Linked DNA regions of Homo sapiens. The protein of the gene in region 3 purifies or fractionates together with the protein of the main gene of each other region. This does not show direct contact. Each region holds a gene or a part of one and is shown on either strand. Other genes may lie near its edges.

Region 1 (7,028 bases), on a different chromosome or scaffold from region 3:
ATTGAAGTCCACATTGATTGGTTAAATTATAGTATACTATACAATGTACTATTATATAGTAATTAAAAAAATATTTTCTGGGTATGATACCAAAAGCAAGCACCAGCAACAACAACAACAACAACAACAAAAACGTAAGTTAAATCTCATTAAACAGTTGTGTGTATCAAAGGACACTATCAACAGAGTAAAAAGGCAACCACAGAATCAGAGAAAATATTTGCAAATCATATATACAACAGGAGACTGATATCTAGAATATATTTTTAAAACTCCTACAACTTAACAACAAAAACAAACAACTGAATATTAAAATGGGCAAAAGACTCAAATAGATATTTTTCCAAAGACATACAAATGGTCAATAAACACACAAACAGACCCACAACAGCACTAGTCACTAAAGAAATGCAAATCAAAACCATAATGAGGCACCACTTCATAAACATTAAGATGGCTATTTTCAAAAAACAAAAAATAACGTGGATGTAGAGAAACTAGAACCTTTGTGCATTGCTGGTGGGAATGTAAAATGGTACAGCCACTGTGGAAAATGATGTGCCGCTTCCCCACAAAAAAGCAAAACATAAAATTACCATATAATCTAACAATTCCACTTCTGGGTATGTACCTATAAAAAGTAAAAGCAGGCACTCAAACAGATATCAGTACATCTATGTTCACAGCATTATTCATAATAGCCAAAGGATGGAAGCAACCCAAGTTTCCACTGACAAACGGATAAACAAAATACGGCATCAAGAAAGAAACTTTTATCTGAGGAATGCAAGTCCTTTTAAATGATCTGGCCCAGAAAGGCATTAAAATGTGACAGCAATCACATCCTACTTCTCTCCTTTGAGCTATGAGAAATATTTATCTATTGAAACTGCTTTATACTGCCACAAGTAACTAGAAAATAACCTAATAATGCTGCACCACACACTATAAACTACTCCCTGCATCTCAACAATGTTAGTCAATCATTAACCAAAGTTATTTCTATAAACTAGTGAGAATTCCTGACAGACAACTTAGTATCAGCCCACTCCATGTCCCCTTTATTTAATGCCTTCACAAACCTGCTTGTAACAATGGCCAAAGGGAGCTCATATCCAAGGATACTTGAGTCTGAGTCTCCCAGGCAACTGTTCTCATTTTGGCTCAAGTAAACTCTTTGAATCCTATTTTGTGCTTCAGCCTCTTCCTTTTAGGTCGATGGTATGTACACACATACAATGAAATATTATTCCGCCTTAAAAATTACGGAAATTTTGATACATGCTACATAACATGAGTGAACTTCGAAGACGTGCTAAAAGAAAAGCCAGTTTCCAAAACACAAAAATTCTATGATTCCTCCTATATGAGGTTTTTAGAGCAGTCAAATTCATAGAGACACAAAGTAGAATGGTGTTTGCCAGGTACTAGGAGAAGGGGAGAATAGGAAGTTAGTGTTTAATGTGTAAGAAGTTTCTGTTGGGAAAGACTAAGTTCTACAGATGGATGGGTGGTGATGGTGACACAACAATGTGAATATACTTCATGCCACAAAACTGTACACTTGCAACTGTTAAAATGATAAATTTTGTTATATATTTTTTACTACAATAAAATTTATTTTATAACCCTTTCATGTCACACTAAGATATATTAATGACAGGAAATAGGATATGTATGCGGTAGAATCAACTAGTACTCTTCCTCAGTAAGCACAAGGTAATCAAAACAATTCAGTGGGTCTGGAATATTAAAAGATAGCCCTTTCCTCCTGAGTAACAAAGAGAACTGTGACTGACAGCAAGTGATTCTTGTAATTACACCAGGCTTGCAAGAGTGGAAAAATGTAAATGCTTTTCAGTACAATAGAGGTGGGTCTAGTGGGCTTCACATAAACTCTATTCACATATAATTAAGACAATAAGCTAAGAAAAAAATGGTTTTCTTCTTGAGTTCTGTTACTTCACAGGTGACTTACGAAAGCTTGATCACAGGTCTCATTGATAGAGAGGCTATACAGAACTGGAGCACTCATGTTTTTTGTTTCCTTTGTTTTTGTTTTTTTTTTAGAAGACAGGGGCCCTGCTATGGTTGCCTAGCATAGCCTCAACTCCTGGGCTCAGGCAATCCTCCCACCTTACCCTCCCAAGTAGCTGGGACTATAGGCACACACCATGCCTGGTTTTGATGCACTGACTTTTACCTTCATTCACTGGCCTAGCAACACCTTCTTTACAGAGCCTAACAATAACTGGGTAGAGAAGAAAGTAACCAATCAGAGGAGAGCCTCACTGCCCCTTCTGCAGAGGCACTGTTTAAATGGCAAAATGCAAGTGTGATTCAAAGAGGAGTATCTCCTCTTGTGGAGAACATGCTGGGCATGATGTCATCAAACTGAATTATGTCAAGAAGGGGCATGGTGTGGCATACAGGCATGATCTGTCCCCATCGTTCTCTTTAGCTTTATCTCCTGCCTCTCTTCCCCGTGATTTCTCAGCTTGCCTTCTTGCTATTCCTGAACACATCAAGTGTGGTCCCATTTGAGGGACACTGCACTTCTTTCTGCCTGAAACATTCTTTTCTTTACTGTTTTCATATTCTTCCTCTCTTATCTCATTCAGTTTTCCTCTCAAATGTCAGGTCGTCAAAGAGGTATTCCCAATGACCCTATCTAATATAGGCTTTCCTCCATCAAGCTTTATTCCCTTATACTGTTTCATTTGTCTTCAGACTAATTACAATCTTAAATAATTTACTGCCTATCTCCTATCACCAGAATGTAAACCCACAGGGCAAGGGTGACATCCGTCTTACTTATCACTGTATTACTAGTGCTTAGAATAGGGCCATACAAACAACAAATAAATACTTGAAAGAATATGGACAGGAAAAGAGAAAGAGTGTAATGGAGAGACAGATCAGAAAGTATCCAGAAAGACCACCCCTCTTCCCAGAGGCCTATCTCTAGAAGGCCTAGTCAGAGGCCTAACTCTACAAGGGCTTCCTCCACTTGGAATCTTAAGAAAACAGTTATTAGCTAGAATTGTCCTTTATTCACTTCAATATCCTTCTAAGAGTTGCTTGATTCTTCAGCAAAGAAAGCTGTTTTAACTATATTGTACTTCAAAGGATTTGATGAGAGGAAAGCTGAAAAGGCAGATGGGTGAGGAAAAAATGTGTTTAGTTAGCCTAATGTGACAGTTTTATACAACAAGAAGTTGGAAGGGGACTGGGCCCTCTAGATGGTAACAACTCAGAATCACCTTGAATTATAAAACAGCAGTGACAAAATCCATAATCCACAGGTACAAAAAAGACTAAGTGCTAAAGGTAAGAATGAACTCTTGACTTTCAAACAAAAATTAGCAAAGATTTCCTTTCAGAACGAAAAAGACAAGGACACTGATAACCTCAGGTTACACAGGTAAGTTTAATTTTATACAAAAGAAAGATATATACACATTTCTTAGGACATGCAAATTATTAATGTGCTATTACCATATACTGTCTTTTTTAAATTTTAACAAGAGAGTGGCTGAACATTAACATATTCAGTTATCTTAAAGCCACAATGTTTAATAAATCCATCATCAGCTTCAAAGCATTTATTTGTGTTATTAATGTCTAAAAGGTATATCCTATTCACTGGGACATTCTGAAAAGAAAAATAAAGACCGGGGGGAAATACACTAAGTGTTAATAATTATCTGTGTGTGGTAAAATCAAGAATGACCTTAGTGGCCTTAATATTTAATTTTCCACAGTCACAAAAAAAGAAACTTACTTAAAATTGAAAACAACTTTGCTAAAGAATATAATATAGGTACGTCACGTAAGGCCTTCTTTTAGAAAAGCCATGAAATGACCTATAACATTGTCCTATTTATAACACTTACCTCATAACCAAAAATCATTTTAACTTTGAAGACTTTATTTCCTCCTTTACAATTAAATATTCAAAAGGTTTAGTCTTAATTTTTAAAAAGCAAGTTTTCCAGCATACTCCACATAAAAACTGTGAACGTATAAGCATTTGGGTTTTTCGAGGATACTTTGATATAAGGAAAACCTGAAATTAAGATCTATTGTGACACAGGTTCAGTATTGCATATTACAAGGAACTATTCCTGATATTAACAACCTCAGAAGCAATCTAAAATTTCAGAAAACTAATATATATTAAAAGCTAATAAAGAGGGAATAGTGGTGATAGACATGTTAGTTAGCTTGATTTACCCATTTCACAATATATACATATACAAAAATAACATGTACACGGTAAATATATGTAATTTTTTTTTGTCATCTATACCTCAATAAAAACATATATTTTTTTAAATTTGTTGAGACAGGGTCTCCTCTGTCACCCAGGCTGGAGCGCAATGGCGCAATCTCAGCTCATTGCAGCCTTGATCTCCGGAGCTCAGTGATCCTCTCACCTCAGCCACCTAAGCAGCTAAGACTATAGGTGTGTGCTAACATGACTCACTAATTTTTGTATTTTTGGCATAGAGACAGGGTTTTGCCACGTTGCCCAGGCTTGTCTTGAACTCCTGGGCTCAAACAATCCTCCCATCTAGGCCTCCCAACGTGCTGGGATTACAGGCATGAGCCACTGTACCCGGCCATAAAAATAAATATTTTTTTAAAAGTTTAGAAGAAGAAATAGCAGACCCTTGTTTGCCTACCCACCATCCACTCCTTTCTTTCATCTTTCCAACAGAATATCCATTTTATTCCCGTTTTCACTCTCATCTTCAGCTCCAATCCAAAGTTGGATGTTGATTAGGGTAAGAATATTGGTCTTGGGTGGGTCTAACCAGAATGAAGGGAAAGACACAGTCCAGGACTGCAGAAACAGATGGTTGTCTCTTTCTGAATTGAACTGATTACCAAAGGAGAAAAACAGCCTTTGGATAATAGTAATTTTGTGATGAGTAAAGCAGAGAAAGAGAAAGAAATTGGATCTACAATAAAGTCATTGATTTGCTGAATCAAATACTTTTGGAATCGGTCTACTACTCTGCACTTCCTATAATGTACCTAACATAGTTCTTTCCAAGCACTTGAGTCAGGCTACATAAAACCCAATTTATGCAGACAAACGCATTATAACTAATATGGAAGGAAACCAAATCGTATGGAATTTTCTTCTTAACAAAAAGCTGAAATGCCGTGTGTTAGTATGTGTTAACACCCTCATACTCAGGAGTGTTGATAATTCTATCTTGATCACAGACATAAGTTTAATTATCCCATCTGCCACAACGTCTTAATAGTCACTAAAAAAAGACATGAGTGAACATGGATGGATCTTTTTAAGGGATATTTTTAAAAGAAAAAAGAAGTTATCTATACTTTCAACACTTTGTATTTTTATGTTAAGATTTAAAAAAAAAAAAAAAAACGAGAAAGAAGAATCTTAGAGTTCCTCCTAAGGCTTGCATTTGGTTAACAGTTTAATTAAATACAGTTTATTAAAAAAATTGAGGCAACTCATATAGGTTAATTTGAAATTTTTCCTGCTTGCACTTAATATGTGTGTGGTGTGTACACACACATGCATACATACACACAGTATTTTATATCTGAAGAAACAACTAAGATAATTCACACAAAAGAAAGACATTTCCACTTTATAAAAGTAATTCACAGGCCAGGCATGGTGGCTCAGATCTGTCATCCCAGCACTTTGGGAAGCCAAAGCTGGAGGAGTGTTTGAGGCCAGGAGGTTAAGACCAGCCTGAGCAACATAGTGAGACCTTTTCTCTATAAAAAAAGAAAAATTTTTTAAAAGTAATTCACCAGAGGATACACTATGGAATCACAACCGAAGGGATTTTTTTGTTTGATAGCTATGTAAAAATATATTTAGTTTATAAAATATAAGTCTCATTAGTTATTTACAGTAATGCACAAATACTGTCAGGTAAGTATTAAAAGACTAAAGGTTACTGTTGTCAAGTCGCTGAAGCTAAGTATCAACTTAAAAAGACAAACCAAGCAAAACATTTGAATTTGTGCAGTCATAGACCAAGGATATAGAAGGCAAAAACGAAAAGGGATGCATTTTGAGTCCAGACTTGAATTTTTTTTTTTTTTTTTTTTTTTTTTTTTTTTTTTTTTGAGATGGAGTCTCACTCTGTCACCCAGGCTGGAATGCAGTGGCACGATCTCAGCTCACTGCATTCTCCACCTCCCCAGGTTCAAGCAATTCTCCTATCTCAGCCTCGAGCGAGTAGCTGCACTTATAGGCGTGCGCTACCATGCCTGGCTAATTTTTGTATTTTTAGTAGAGATGGGGTTTCACCATGTTGGCCACACTGGTCTTGAACTCTTGACCTCAGGTGATCCGCCTGCCTTGGCCTCCCAAAGTGCTGAGATTACAGGCATGAGCCATGGCACCCAGCCCACACTTGAATTCGTAATGTCTGACTCTAGCAGAATGAACCAAAACTTCTGTTTAGCAAAACAGGTGCGCAACTTCCTATTTCTCACATATAACAGCTTGGAGCCACAATCGAATCTAACAATCTATTACAGCATGAAATGGAAATGTGCACTGTTAAAGGGCAGAGATGAATATGTAAGTTGTTATATTTGAGGGAGATAAATGAGGAATGAAAATGAAGTGCAGTAGGATAAACTTGTTGGCAAATGGTTAAACATTTTTTAAACTGCTCAGTGTTAAACGATTACTGTTGGACTCAAACCTCAGCATCCTGCCAGTATATGGAATTGTTAGCTCAGTCACACCTCTAGATATTGTTTAATAAATTAAACTCAATATTTTTATTCATATTGGACATATACTTCTTAGAGACCCCTTAAAACAGAAACAGCTGAGTAACACATATGCCATCATTACTTTTATGCTAAAGGCAGAGATTCTTAAAACCTCTAGTTAGTGAAGGACTACATTTTAAGAGATAGAAGGAAACTCAGCAAGTTAACTAATCCCAACTCTATCCCAAGCTAGGAGATTCTAAATAAATGCATTTAGCAAAGAGTTAGAGAGTTTTCTATGT
Region 2 (7,028 bases), on a different chromosome or scaffold from region 3:
CAGGGTTTCGCCATGTTGGCCAGGCTGGTCTCGAACTCCTGACCTCGTGATCTGCCCGCCTCAGCCTCCCAAAGTGCTGGGATTACAGGTGTGAGCCACCGCACCCAGCCCACCAAAACTACCTTTACCAAGATCACCAGTGTCCTCTGTGTGTTAAATCATGCATTCTCAAAGCAGATAAAAACTGCTTCTTGTGAGGTGAAAAAAATATAATACTCTTTTTATGTGTAAAGCACAAATACAATACATAAACAGAGAATATTCTGTGGTATTAAAATTTTATGGTGATATTAATTAGCTTCATTTAATTATTCCACATTTCATAAATCATAACATCTGGTACCCCTAAATATATACAACTATAATTTGTCAATTTACAGTTGAAAAAGAAAGAATAATAAAAAGTTTTATGGGTGAGGAATTTGATTGGCAGGGTGGTGAGAAGATGGAGTCTAAAAGGGCTCCTTAGCAGGCATTAAGGAAAAGAAAGTTTAAAAAACACTCTTAAATCAACAGACATTTTCAATTCTTTTTTGTTGTTGTTGAGATGGAGTCTCGCTCTGTCATCCAGGCTAGAGTGCAGTGGCGCCATCTCGGCTCACTGCAGCCTCCACCTCCCGGGTTCAAGCGATTCTCCTGCCTCAGCCTCCAGAGCAGCCGGGATTACAGGCACCCACCACCACACCCAGCTAATTTGTTGGTATTTTTAGTGGAGATGGGATTTCACCATGTTGGCCAGGCTGGTCTCGAACTCCCGAGCTCAGGTGATACTCCCACTTTGGCCTCCCAAAGTGCTGGGATTATAGGTGTGAGCACCACGCCCAGCTGACATTTTCAATTCTCGTAGCTTAACCTCTTTGTGCCATGTAACAGTATTTACCACTCCATTCTTCTGGAAATACACTAATAAGCTATAGTTACTAAAAACCACCCTGTTTTTTTTTTTTTCTTAGGACTCTTCAGTCACATCTTGGTCATTCTTTAGGTCCACTTCCTTGACCCACCTCCTACTCAAATGTTGGAGTTCCTGCCATAAGCTCTCTTCATACTATGCACATTCTTTCTTTTGTTTCAATTCTCCTTTTGATTAATTCCCATTAACAAAAAATCCTGATTACTTACAATTCTGATTCCAATCTGGCTTCTCTAAAGCACCAGAAGGGTATATATAATAGTTTTTTGAATATATTTATTTGGGTCAGATGTATCCAGAATTGGTCAAATTACACAGGACCAGGCCAAGTGACACATCTCTCTCATCTCCACACACCCCCTCCTCCAAGCCTAAATGTTTTTTAGCACAAAACCTAAATGTTTCTCTTATCTTTTCACTGTACCCCATCCTCATAGTCAAGACTCTAGACCAGGCCATCACCACTCATCTCCCAACTGGTGTCACAGTGTTCAGTTACCGATTATCCAGTTTCCGCAGTGTAATTAGTATGATCTTTCTAAAAATGTAAATCGGATTGCATGATTAATTAAAAAAATTATAAAATGACTTTACATTGCACTAAGAATAAAGTCCAAACTCCTTAACAAGTTTAGCATGCTCCATGAACCAATCAGTCTCTGCTTACCTCCTTGTCCAGTTTCATCTCCCCTCTTCCCTCCACCTTCCATATTTGCTAAATTTATACTGGATTTATTTGTCTTGTGTTCTCTCTCACCTCTAAGCCTTGTAGATTCCCACAGCACACTATATTTCCTGTATCATCGTAGGAATTACATCTTAACTGTATTAAGTTGTCTTCTCTGCTCATCTCTAAATGCTGTGAGTATAGGAACTCTAATTTTGTTTGTTCTTATATACCCAGTGCCTCAAAACTCTGTGTTGAATGAATATGTGGTCAAGATATTGGCTGAGAATCAGAAGAGTAGATGCTTTTCTGGTCTCATTCTCTCAAGTTCAGTATAGGCCCTTCTGTGCCTCCATCATATTATATATAGAAGGAATACATTTTTGTTTTTAGACACTGTCTTCCAAGAATATTTTGACTATTGTAAATGCATTGCTTGTGAATTACCCAGGATGATTATAAAATGTTTAGTAAAAAGGATTTATGATGTATTTAAGCTGCAGTCAAAGCTCTGGTGGGTCTGCCTCTGAACACAGTTTCTTCTAGTGGCTTTTAAATAAGCTGGGAGAATTCTGTTTTATGACTCAAAAGCCACTAGGAACAAAAAGATGGTTGTGGTAATAATGAGTGTGTAGTTTTCTCAGAAAGTTTATGAAAATAATAATTAAAAAAATAACTGCAGCTACCAAAAGGACGATAAATAAAGAAACAGGCTAATTTACACTGCAACATGGTATTATTTAATTGTTATATGCATTAGACCTTGGTCATAATATGGATAGAAGAAGTAAGCTCTCTTTTCCTATTATAGAAGGTTAAGATGGGTTTTAAAGCTAAGCACAGTCGAGAACTTACAAGTGTTATGCTTTCATCTCAGCACTAAGGATAACAACAATAAATCTAGGAGGCTGGTTTAACTTTCTGTATTCTGAGACCTGAACTACTGCCAATAAAAACAACTTCGGTGGAAACTTTCCTGGAAAGAATTTTTCACCAGCTTAAGAGGATGAGTAGAGATCTGGCCCTAAAATAAAGTAACTACAAAATCACTTACTTTCAAAACAAGCAACTCTTTCAGAGTGTATTGTGGCAAAGGAGCACTATAAATCCTTGTGAACTATATTTTCGATAGGATGAATGATTTTAGATAACCTGTGTCGGTGCTTTTAAATATAACTTCCACTCTAAATAATTTATTAAACTTCCTCAGCATAACAACTAGAATGTCTTTTGCCTCCTAACTAAACAAGAAATGTCTTTTACCTCCTCCTCTTAAATCATAAGCTAGGCTGGGTGCAGTGGCTCATGCCTGTAATCTCAGCACTTTGGGAGGCTGAGGCGGGCGGATCACGAGGTCAGGAGTTCGAGACCAGCCTGGCCAACATGGTGAAACCCCATCTCTACTAAAAATACAAAAAATTAGCTGGGCATGGTGGCGCATGCCTGTAATCCTAGCTACTCGGGAGGCTGAGGCAGGAGAATCGCTTGAACCCAGCAGGCGGAGGTTGTGGTAAGAGGAAATCGTGCCATTGCACTCCAGCCTGGGCAATAGAGCAAGACTCCGTCTCAAAAAAAAAAAAAAATCATAAGCTAAAGCAGCACATTCATGCACTGTTCAATATATTAACTACTAACCATATATGGTTATTTAAATTTAAATTAATTAAAATTAAAACTTCAGGCTAGGCTTGGTGGCTCACACCTGTAATCCCAGAACTTTGGGAGATCAAGGTGGGAAGATCACTTGAGCCCAGGAGTCCAGGATCAGCCTGGGCAATATAGGCAGACTTTGTCTCTACAAAACAAAAATTTGAAACTCAGCTGTGTGTGGTGATGCACGCCTGTAAGCCCAGCTACTCAGGAGACTGAAGTGGGAGGATCGCTTGGGCTCTGGAGGTGGGCGTTGGAGTGAGCCAAGATGACGCAGCTGCACTCCAGCCTGGGCAACAGAGCGAGACCCTATCTCAAAAAAAAAATAAAAATAAAAAAGCCGGGCATGGTGGCTCACGCCTGTAATCCCAGCACTTTGGGAGGCCGAGGCGGGTGGATCATGAGGTCCGGAGATCGAGACCATCCTGGCTAACATGGTGAAACCCCATCTCTACTAAAAATACAAAAAATTAGCCAGGCGTGGTGGCGGGCTCCTGTAGTCCCAGCTACTCGGGAGGCTGAGGCAGGAGAATGGTGTGAACCTGGGAGGCGGAGCTTGCAGTGAGCAGAGATCACGCCATTGCGCTCCTGTCTGGGAGACAGAGCAAGACTCCGTCTCAAAAAAAAATTAATTAAAATTTCAAAAAAATTAAAACTTCAGTATTGGGTACATTAGCCACATTTCAAGTGCTCAATAGCCATGGGTGTAGTGGCTACCATATTAGCACAGATAAAGGACATTTCCATCATTGCAGAAAGCCCTGTTGGACAGTGCTGTATTAGAACGTGTTCCTAATAATTAGTCTCTACAAGGCAGATAAGAGCAGGAGCTCAGAATTCAGCTGGATTTAGGTTTGAATCCTAGCTTACTGCGTGATCTTAGGTAATTGACCTAACTTTTCTGAGATGACATTGTCTTATCTGTAAAATGGGGATAATAGTAGTATTTATGGTGTAGCATTGTGAAAATAAGATGAGATAAAGTGTCTAGCATAGTGTCTGGCCCATAATAAGTACTCAATACATTTTAGATAGTATTAATTCATTTATTATTCATTATCTTTAATGAATAAAACACTTTGAATGGGGACTGAGTACAGTAGCTTCACTTTGGGAGGCGAAGGCAGGCGGATCACTTGAGGCCAACATGGTGAAACCCCATTTCTACTAAAAACAGAAAAACTAGCTGGGCATGGTGGTGCACACCTGTAATCCCAGCTACTGAGGAGGCTGAGGCACGAGAATTGCTTGCCCATGGGAGACGGAGGTTGCAGTCAGCAGAGATCACACCACTGCACTCCAGCCTGGGTGACAGTGGGAGACTCTGCTCAAACAAACAAACAAGCTTTGTTCCCAAGTAGCTGGGATTACAGGCGCACGCCACCATGCCCGGCTAATTTTTGTATTTTTAGTAGAGACAGGGTTTTGCCATGCTGGCCAGGATGGCCTTGAACTCCTGACCTCAGGTAATCCACCAGTCTTGGCCTCCCAAAGTGCTGGGATTACAGGCGTGAGCCACTGTGCCTGGCCAAAAATAACCACATTGAATGGGGCCAAAAGATTAATTTTTGCAAAGAATGCTGTGTTCCATATGTGACTCACCTGAAGTGCCCAAATCTGAGTCTGCTTGTGGATTACAGTGCTCCACTTGAAGTCATACATTATATATTTCAGATGCTGATTTTCTTCCAAGAAAAAGGTGTAATAATAAAAATTTAGTTGCAGATCTTATGGTTGGATATTCCTGTTTCATTTAAAAAATGAAAATGAAAAGTTTATCAGCTAAAGATTATAGTTAAAATCAGCAGGTTCTATATAGCAAGTCTAAGTATTCTAATGGCACTTATATTAATACCCAGACAGAAATATAAGACACAAAGCAAGCCTACTAAGCAAAGCATCTGACTAGATAAAGTAGAAAAATTTGGCAGGTTCCAACCCTGAGGTGTCAGAGTTTATTGCTAATAACTCAAGTTGATTTCTTGGCTAAACAGAGGGCTTTAAACAAAGAAATTTTTTGGTTCTAATTAAACAGGAACCCTAAACTGTTAACAGTATTCATACTTTATTAATACAATAATTACTAAAACATATCTTAGTAACTAGTATTATTGATAACTACTGAACATGTGTCGAATGGGAAGAGGAGATCATCACCACATATTCTTTAAATGTCAGCCGCTTTCATAAAAGAAAGGGTTGATGTTGTTTTCTGTCAACAGAATCAAATGAATCAATTCTGGAAAGTCTTCCTTTCCTCTTTGGAATTTATCTTCATTCATAGAAACTGTATTCATAGGTCTTAAATTCTTTCTTCTTAGACTATAGTACTATTACTTGGAATGATTGAGCCACTAGACTAAACACCTGATACTGGTGCTTATACACGTAAAAGATAGGAACAAGGTAAGATAATTAGACATTTTTCCATTGTCCCCCATATTGCAGGGACAATAAACTTCTTATAGGAAGCATAACTAACACTCAGAAAGTATGCAAATCACAATGTAAAGCCTAATGAGTTATCATAGAAGGAACACAGCTTGTAAACATCATGCAGGTCAAGAAATAAAACATTGGCCAGGTGCGGTGTCTCACTCCTGTAATCCTAGCACTTTGGGAGGCTGAGGCAGGCGGATCACGAGGTCAGGAGTTCAAGACCAGCCTGGCCAACATAGTGAAACCTCGTCTCTATTAAAAATACAAAAAAAAAAAAAAACTAGCCAGGTGTGGCGGTGTGTGCCTGTAATCCCAGCTACTAGGGAGGCTGAGGCAGGAGAATCTCGTGAACTTGGGAGGCAGAGGTTTCAGTGAGCCGAGATAACACCATTGCACTCCAGCCTGGGCGACAGTGTAAGACTCCATCTCAAAAAAAAAAAAAAAAGGAAAATAAAAAAGAAATAAAACATTACCAGCACTCTAGGAGATCATCCCCATGGCCCTCCACTCTCCATAAAGGAAACCATTTGATTTAACGTAGATTAGTTTTGCCTGTTCTACAACTTCATATAAATGGAATCATACTGTGTATATTCTTTTGCATCTGGCTTCATTTATTCAACATCGTATTTGTAAGATTCGTTTGTATGTATATATTCTTTGAGTAAATGTCTTTTCAAATCCTTTGCCCATTTTTTAATTGGCTTGTTTATTTATTTATTTTTTATGTTTTAGAGGCAAGGTCTCCCTCTGTCACCCAGGCTAGGGTGCAGTGGTGGGATCATAGTTGACTGCAGCCTCAAACTCCTGGACTCAGGCAATCCTCCCACCTCAGCCTCCCAAGTAGCAGGGACTACAGGTATGAGCCACTATGCCTGGCTAGTTTTTAAATTTTTTTATAGAGACGGGGTCTCAAACTCCTGGGCTCAAGCAATCCTCCCTCCTCAGCCTCCCAGAGTGCTAGGATTACAGTTGTGAGTCACCACACCTGGCCCTTCTTATTATTGAGTAAAAGTTCTTTATATTTTCCGGATAGGGGTCCCTTTAAGATATATGGTTTCAAATATTTACTATCATTTTGTGAATTTTTGCTTTCTTGATAATGTCCTTTGAAGCACTAAGTTTTAAATTTGATGGACTCTGGGTTATCTATTTTTTATTTTTCTTGTCTGTACTTTTGGTATCGTATCTTAAAAAACATTGTCTAATCCAGAGTCAAAATCTATGCATATTTTTTCTAAGAGTTTTATCATTTTGGCTTTTCCAATTAGGTCTTTGATACATTTTGTGTTGCTTTTTGTATCCAATTTCATTCTTTTGTATGTGGAAATCCAGTTGTTCCAGTACCATTTGTTGAAA
Region 3 (7,028 bases):
CTGCATCAGGTTCTTCTCCAGGAATGGACTGAGCTGGCCAGGGCGCTGGGGCTCCTGTCACAGTCACCAGATGGCCCGCCCCCAAAACTTGGTAACCGGACACTGGCAGGGAGGGATGCTCCGGTTTCCTCTTCACTGCTCAGAGACAAGGCCTCTAGAGGGAAAGAAGGGCAGGGACAGGAGACCAAGCCTACCCCTAGTCTCTGGGCAAGGGACTAGATGGTCAGTGGAGTTGATAGAGAGGTGAGAGATGCCCTCTTCAGCTCCAATCCCACTGCCACAATTAGACTGCAGCCTCCTGAGAAATCTCATATACCCTCTTCTCACTGACCCTAGGCATCTTAATCCTCACCTGCCTTTCCAGAGCCAATACTTGATTTATTCCTTCCCATCAACCTTCTCTTATCTCTACTTCCTCCTAGCACCCTCCCCCGCAACCCCTGTGTCTATCCCTCCAACTGCTCTCACATCCTTGGCCCTCTTGTCCCACTGGTCTCCAATGCCACTGGCCTGCCAGTGGTGGGTGGCTTTTTTTTTTTTTTTTTTCAGATGGAGTTTCACTCTTATTGCCCAGGCTGGAGTGTAATGGCGTGATCTCGGCTCACTGCAACCTCCGTCTCCTGGGTTCAAGCAATTCTCCTGCCTCAGCCTCCCAAGTAGCTGGGATTACAGGCATACACCACCACACCTGGCTAATTTTTGTATTTTTAGTAGAGACGGGGTTTCTCCATGTTGGTCAGGCTGGTCTCAAACTCCCAACCTTAGGTGATATGCCTGCCTCAGCCTCCCAAAGTGCTAGGATTACAGGCGTGAGCCACCGCGCCTGGCCTGGTTGGCTTTCTTCATTGTATTTGAAACCCCTTTGACCCTCAAGTCCCCATTCCCAGCCTTGCCCTTATGGCTTCACCACCTGGTTCCCGAAAAAGGGAAAGTCTTTAGATGAAATCCCCTGCAGCCCCCTGCCCCAGACTCCCATCCATCTGCATTTATTTACTTATTTATTTATTTAGAGATGGAGTCTCACTCCGTTGCCCAGGCTGGAGTGCAGTGGTGCCATCTCGGCTCACTGTAATCTCCACCTCCCGGGTTCATGTGATTCTCCTGCCTCAGCCTCCTGAGTAGCTGGGATTATAGACATGCGTTACCACAACTGGCTAATTTTTGTATTTTTAGTAGAGACGGGGTTTTGACATGTTGGCCAGGTTAGTCTTGAACTCTTGATTTCAAGTGACCTGCCCGCCTCAGCCTCCCAAAGTGCTGGGATTACAGGCATGAGCCACTGTACCCAGTCTCCATCTGCATTTATACTCTCCTCTCCTCCTGCCCTCTTCCCTCTGGGCAGAGTTGGTCCTCCCTGCTCCCAGGCTAGTCCTCCCACCCAGCTCAGTAAGCCTCCCCTCCCATCACTCAGTGTTCTGTACTTCCTTTCTTCCCTTCAGCCTCTCTCCCACCAATCGCTCCTTCCCATCAGCAGTTAAACTTGCTCTAGGCTCTCCCGCCTAATATTAATAATAAACAAAAATATGGAGTCATACATTTTAAGAAACAAAAAAAAAAACCCAAAATAACAAAATAGACAAACTTCCTTGAACTGAGTGAGGTTCTCCTCCAGCAGCTTTCTCTTTTACAGTCAAATTTCTTGAAAGCAAAATTTCCATTCACTGTTTTATCTACTTACCACCTGTGTGCTCCTTTATTCATTTTAATCTGGCTTTAGATGTCGACTTAGAATGTGGGGTTGAAGGGTCATGATCTCTGCAACTTAACATGGTTCAACCAAAAAAAGTATACGAATAGATGGTTAGATAAAGCAAATAAGGTACGATGTCAATGACAGTTGAATCTAGATGGATGATATACATGTGTTCATTGTATTATTCATTTCATTTTTCTGTATGTTTTAAATCATCCACAACAGAATGCTGGGAAAGAAATAATCTAGCTCCTGTTCTCCTTACTTTGCCAGAATTTATCTCCCAGGGCAGGAGGTGGGGAATAGAGTAGAAAGGAATTGAGCTCTTCTTTGTCAACCAATGGTCATGATTTTTTTCCTTGTTTGATTTGACCTTAATGGGCATTGAAACTACTGACCACTCCCTCCTTCTTGAAATTACATTGTTTTCTTTCAGCCTTTAGTTCACCTCTTGGGTACCTTGAAACACTTTCCACTGTTCTCTGGTCACTTCTAATGTTGGTGTCTTCAGGGTTCAGACTTGTGCAGTGTCTGAACTCATTTTATACCTCCTCCCTGAGTTATCTTCACTTCTGTGGCTTTAATTAACATACATATGTTAATAATTCCCTAATCTCTCTCCTGGAACCCAAATCGTAATATCCAGCTACCTAATAGGGTAATATGTCCCTCAGAGTTTACAATCTCAATATGTCCAAAGCTGGGCTCAACATTAATTTTCCACAAATTTGCTTGTAACATCTTTATTTCCAATTACACTGAATAACACCATCATCCATCCAGTTGCAGGAACTAGTAACCTGAGTAACATCCTTGTCAGGCCTCTGAGCCCAAGCTAAACCATCATATCCCCTGTGACCTGCACGTATATATCCAGATGGCCTGAAGTAATTGAAGAATCACAAAAGAAGTGAAAATGGCCTGTTCCTGCCTTAACTGATGACATTACCTTGTGAAATTCCTTCTCCTGGCTCATCCTGGCTCAAAAGCTCCCCCACTGAGCACCTTGTGTCCCCCGCCCCTGCCCACCAAGGAACACCCCCCTTTGACTGTAATTGTCCACTACCTACCCAAATCCTATAAAATGGCCCCACCCCTATCTCCTTTCGTTGACTCTTTTTTCAGACTCAGCCGGCCTGCAACCAGGTGATTAAAAAGCTTTATTGCTCACACAAAGCCTGTTGGGTGGTCTCTTCACATGGACGTGCGTGAAATTTGGTGCCATGACTCGGATCGGGGGACCACCCTTGGAAGATCAATCCCCTGTCCTCCTGCTCTTTGCTTCATGATAAAGATCCACCTAATGACCTCGGGTCCTCAGACCAACCAGCCTGAGGAACATCTCACCAATTTTAAATCAGGTAAGCGGCCTCTTTTTACTCTCTTCTCCAACCTCTCTCACTATCCCTCAACCTCTTTCTCCTTTCAATCTTGGTGCCATCTTTCAATCTCTCCCTTCTCTTAATTTCGGTTCCTTTCCTTTTCTGGTAGAGACAGGAAATGCATTTTATCTGTGAACCCAAAACTCCGGCGCCGATCACGGACTCAGGAAGACAGTCTTCCCTTGGTGTTTAATCACTGCGGGGACGCCTGCTTGATTATTCACCCACGTTTCAGAGTTGTCTGATCACCGCGAGGATGCCTGCCTTGATCTTTCACCCTTAGTGGCAAACACCACTTTTTGGGGGGCAAGTACCCCCCACCCCTTCTCTCCATGTTTCTACCCTCTCTTTTCTCTCCACGTTCCTGGGGGACAAGCACCCCCGACTCCTTCTCTCTGTGTCTCTACCCTCTCTTTTCTCTCCACTTTCCTGGGGGGCAAAGCACCCCCCACCCCTTCTCTCCGTGTCTCTACCCTCTCTTTTCTCTGGGCTTGCCTCCTTCACTGTGGGCAACATTCCACCCTCCATTCCTCCTTCTTCTCTCTTAGCCTGTGTTCTCAAGAACTTAAAACCTCTTCAACTCACACCTGACCTAAAACCTAAATGCCTTATTTTCTTTGCAATGCCGCTTAACCCCAATACAAACTCAACAATGGTTCCAAATAGCCAGAAAACGGCACTTTCGATTTTTCCATCCTACAAGATCTAGATAATTCTTGTTGTAAAATGGGCAAACAGTCTGAGGTGCCTGATGTCCAGGCATTCTTTTACACATCGGTCCCTCCCTAGTCTCTGTTCCCAATGCGACTCATCCCAAATCCTCCTTCTTTCCCTCCCGCCTGTCCCCTCAGTCCCAACCCCAAGCGTCGCTGCGTCTTTTCAATCTTCCAATCTTCCTTTTCTACCGACCCATCTGACCTCTCACCTAATCCCCAGAATGCTCCTCAGGTCACTCCCCACCAGGCTGAATCAGACTCCAATTCTTTCTCAGCTTCTGCTCCTCCACCCTATAATCCTTCTATCACCTCCTCTCCCCACACCCAGTCCGGCTTACAGTTTTGTTCTGCGACTAGCCCTCCCCAACCTGCCCAACAATTTCCTCTTAAAGAGGTGGCTGGAGCTAAAGGCATAGTCAAGGTTAACGCTCCTTTTCCTTTATCCGACCTCTGCCAAATCAGTTAGTATTTAGGCTCTTTTTCATCAAATATAAAAACCCAGCCCAGTTCATGGCTCGTTGGGCAGCAACCCTGAGACGCTTTACAGCCCTAGACCCTAAAAGGTCAAAAGGCAGTCTTATTCTCAATATACATTTTATTACCCAATCCACTCCCAACATTAAATAAAACTCCAAAAATTAAATTCCGGCCCTCAAACCCCATAACAGGACTTAATTAACCTCGCCTTCAAGGTGTACAATAATAGAGTAAAGGCAGCCAAGTAGCAATGTATTTCTGAGTTGTAGTTCCTTGCCTCCACTGTGAGAGAAACCCCAGCCACATCTCCAGTACACAAGAACTTCAAAATGCCTAAGCTGCAGCAGTCAAGCATTCCTACAGGACCTTCTCCATCAGGATCTTGCTTCAAGTGCCAGAAATCTGGCCACTGGGCCAAGGAATGCCCACAGCCCAGGATTCTTCCTAAGCCTTGTCCCATCTGTGTGGAACCCCACTGGAAATCGGACTGTCCAACTCACCTGGCAGCCACTCCCAGAGCCCCTGGAACTCTGGCCCAAGGCTGCCTGACTGACTCCTTCCCAAATCTTCTCGGCTTAGCAGCTGAAGACTGACACTGCCCAATCGCCTTGGAAGCTTCCTGGACCATCACAGATGCTTTGGGTAACTCTTACAGTGGAGGGTAAGTCCGTCCCCTTCTTAATCAATACGGAGGCTACCAACTCCACATTACCTTCTTTTCAAAGGCCTGTTTCCTTTGCCTCCATAACTGTTGTGGGTATTGATGGCCAGGCTTCTAAACCTCTCAAAACTCCCCAACTCTGAGGCCAACTTGGACAATACTCTTTTATGCACTCCTTTTCAGTTATCCCCACCTGCGCAGTTCCCTTATTAGGCCGAGACACTTTAAATTATCTGCTTCCCTGACTATTCCTAGGCTACAGCCACACCTCATTGCCACCTTTTCCCCCAGTTCAAAGCCTCCTTCACATCCTCCCCTTGTATCTCCCCACCTTAATCCTCAAGTATAGGACACCTCTATTCCCTCCTTGGCGACTGATCATGCACCCCTTACCATCCCATTAAAACCTAATCACCCTTACCGTGCTCAATGTCAATATCCCATCCCCCAGCAGGCTTTAAAAGGATTAAAGCCTGTTATCACTCGCCTGTTACAGCATGGCCTTTTAAAGCCTATAAACTCTCCTTACAATTCCCCCATTTTACCTGTTCAAAAACCAGACAAGTCTTACAATTAGTTCAGGATCTGTGCCTTGTCAGCCAAATTGTTTTGCCTATCCACCCCGTGGTGCCAAACTCATATACTCTCCTCCTCAATACCTCCCTCCACAACCCCTCCACAACCCATCATTCTCTTCTGGATTTCAAACATGCTTTCTTTACTATTCATTTGCACCCTTCATCTCAGCCTCTCTTCGCTTTCACTTGGACTGTCCCTGACACCCATCAGGCTCAGCAAACTACCTAGGCTGTACTGCCGCAAGGCTTCACGGACAGCCCCCATTACTTCAGTCAAGCCCAAATTTCTTCCTCATCCATTACCTATCTTGGCATAGTTCTCATGAAAACACACGTGCTCTCCCTGCTGATCATGTCCGGCTAATCTCCCGAACCCCAATCCCTTCTACAAAGCAACAACTCCTTTCCTTTCAAGGGATGGTTAGGTACTTCCACCTTTGGATACCTAGTTTTACCATCCTGACTAAACCATTATATAAACTCACAAAAGCAAACCTAGCTGACCCCACAGATCCTAAATCCTTTTGCCACTCCTTTCCATTCCTTAAAAACAGCCGTAGAAGCTGCTCTCACACTAGGTCTCCCTAATTCATCCCAACCCTTTTTCATCACACACAGCCAAAGTGCAGGGCTGTGCGGTTGGAATTCTTACACAAGAGCTGGGACCACGCCCTGTAGCCTTTCTGTCCGAACAACTTGACCTTACTGTTTTGGCCTAGCCCTCATGTCTGCGTGCAGCGGCTGCCGCTGCTTTAATACTTTCAGAGGCCCTCAAAATCACAAACTATGCTCAACTCACTCTCTACAGTTCTCATAACTTCCAAAATCTATTTTCTTCCTCACACCTGACGCATATACTTTCTGCCCCCCTCCACTACCTCTCAGAAAGCTTAACTCATTGCCTTAACTCGAGCCCTCAGTCTTGCAAAAGGACTATGTGTCAATATTTATACTGACTCTAAATATGCCTTCCATATCCTGTACCTCCATGCTGTTATATGGGCAAAAAGCTTTCCTCATTACACAAGGGTCCTCCATCATTAATTCCTCTTTAATAAAAACTCTTCTCAAGGCCGCTTTACTTCCAAAGGAAGCTGGAGTCATTCACTGCAAGGGCCATCAAAAGGCATCAGATCCCATCGCTCAGGGCAACACTTATGCTGATAAGGTAGCTAAAAAAGCAGCTAGCATTCCAACTTCTGTCCCTCATGGCCAGTTTTTCTCCTTCTCATCAGTCACTCCTACCTACTCCCCCAATGAAACTTACACCTATGAATCTCTTCCCACACAAGGCAAATGGTTCTCAGACCAAGGAAAATATCTCCTTCTAGCCTCACAGGCCCATTCTATTCTTTCGTCATTTCATAACCTCTTCCATGTAGGTTACAAGCCGCTAGCCTGCCTCTTAGAACCTCTCATTTCCTTTCCATTGTGGAAATCTATCCTCAAGGAAATCACTTCTCAGTGTTCCATCTGCTATTCTACTACTCCTCAGGGATTGTTCAGGCCCCCTCCCTTCCC

The links. The genes of interacting proteins can lie anywhere in the genome.
Region 1: the proteins of AP3B2 (region 3) and AP3S1 purify together in Homo sapiens (affinity purification with mass spectrometry; 3 studies listed by BioGRID and IntAct, with this or other methods). This does not show direct contact.
Region 2: the proteins of AP3B2 (region 3) and AP3M1 purify together in Homo sapiens (co-immunoprecipitation; 4 studies listed by BioGRID and IntAct, with this or other methods). This does not show direct contact.

The regions. Positions count from the first base shown.
Region 1 is NC_000005.10:115,844,935-115,851,962, reverse strand, and holds part of AP3S1 (AP-3 complex subunit sigma-1), read right to left. Parts: intron 1-7,028. UniProt on the Homo sapiens protein: Part of the AP-3 complex, an adaptor-related complex which is not clathrin-associated. The complex is associated with the Golgi region as well as more peripheral structures.
Region 2 is NC_000010.11:74,140,801-74,147,828, reverse strand, and holds part of AP3M1 (AP-3 complex subunit mu-1), read left to right. Parts: intron 1-7,028. UniProt on the Homo sapiens protein: Part of the AP-3 complex, an adaptor-related complex which is not clathrin-associated. The complex is associated with the Golgi region as well as more peripheral structures.
Region 3 is NC_000015.10:82,699,870-82,706,897, forward strand, and holds part of AP3B2 (AP-3 complex subunit beta-2), read right to left. Parts: intron 1-7,028.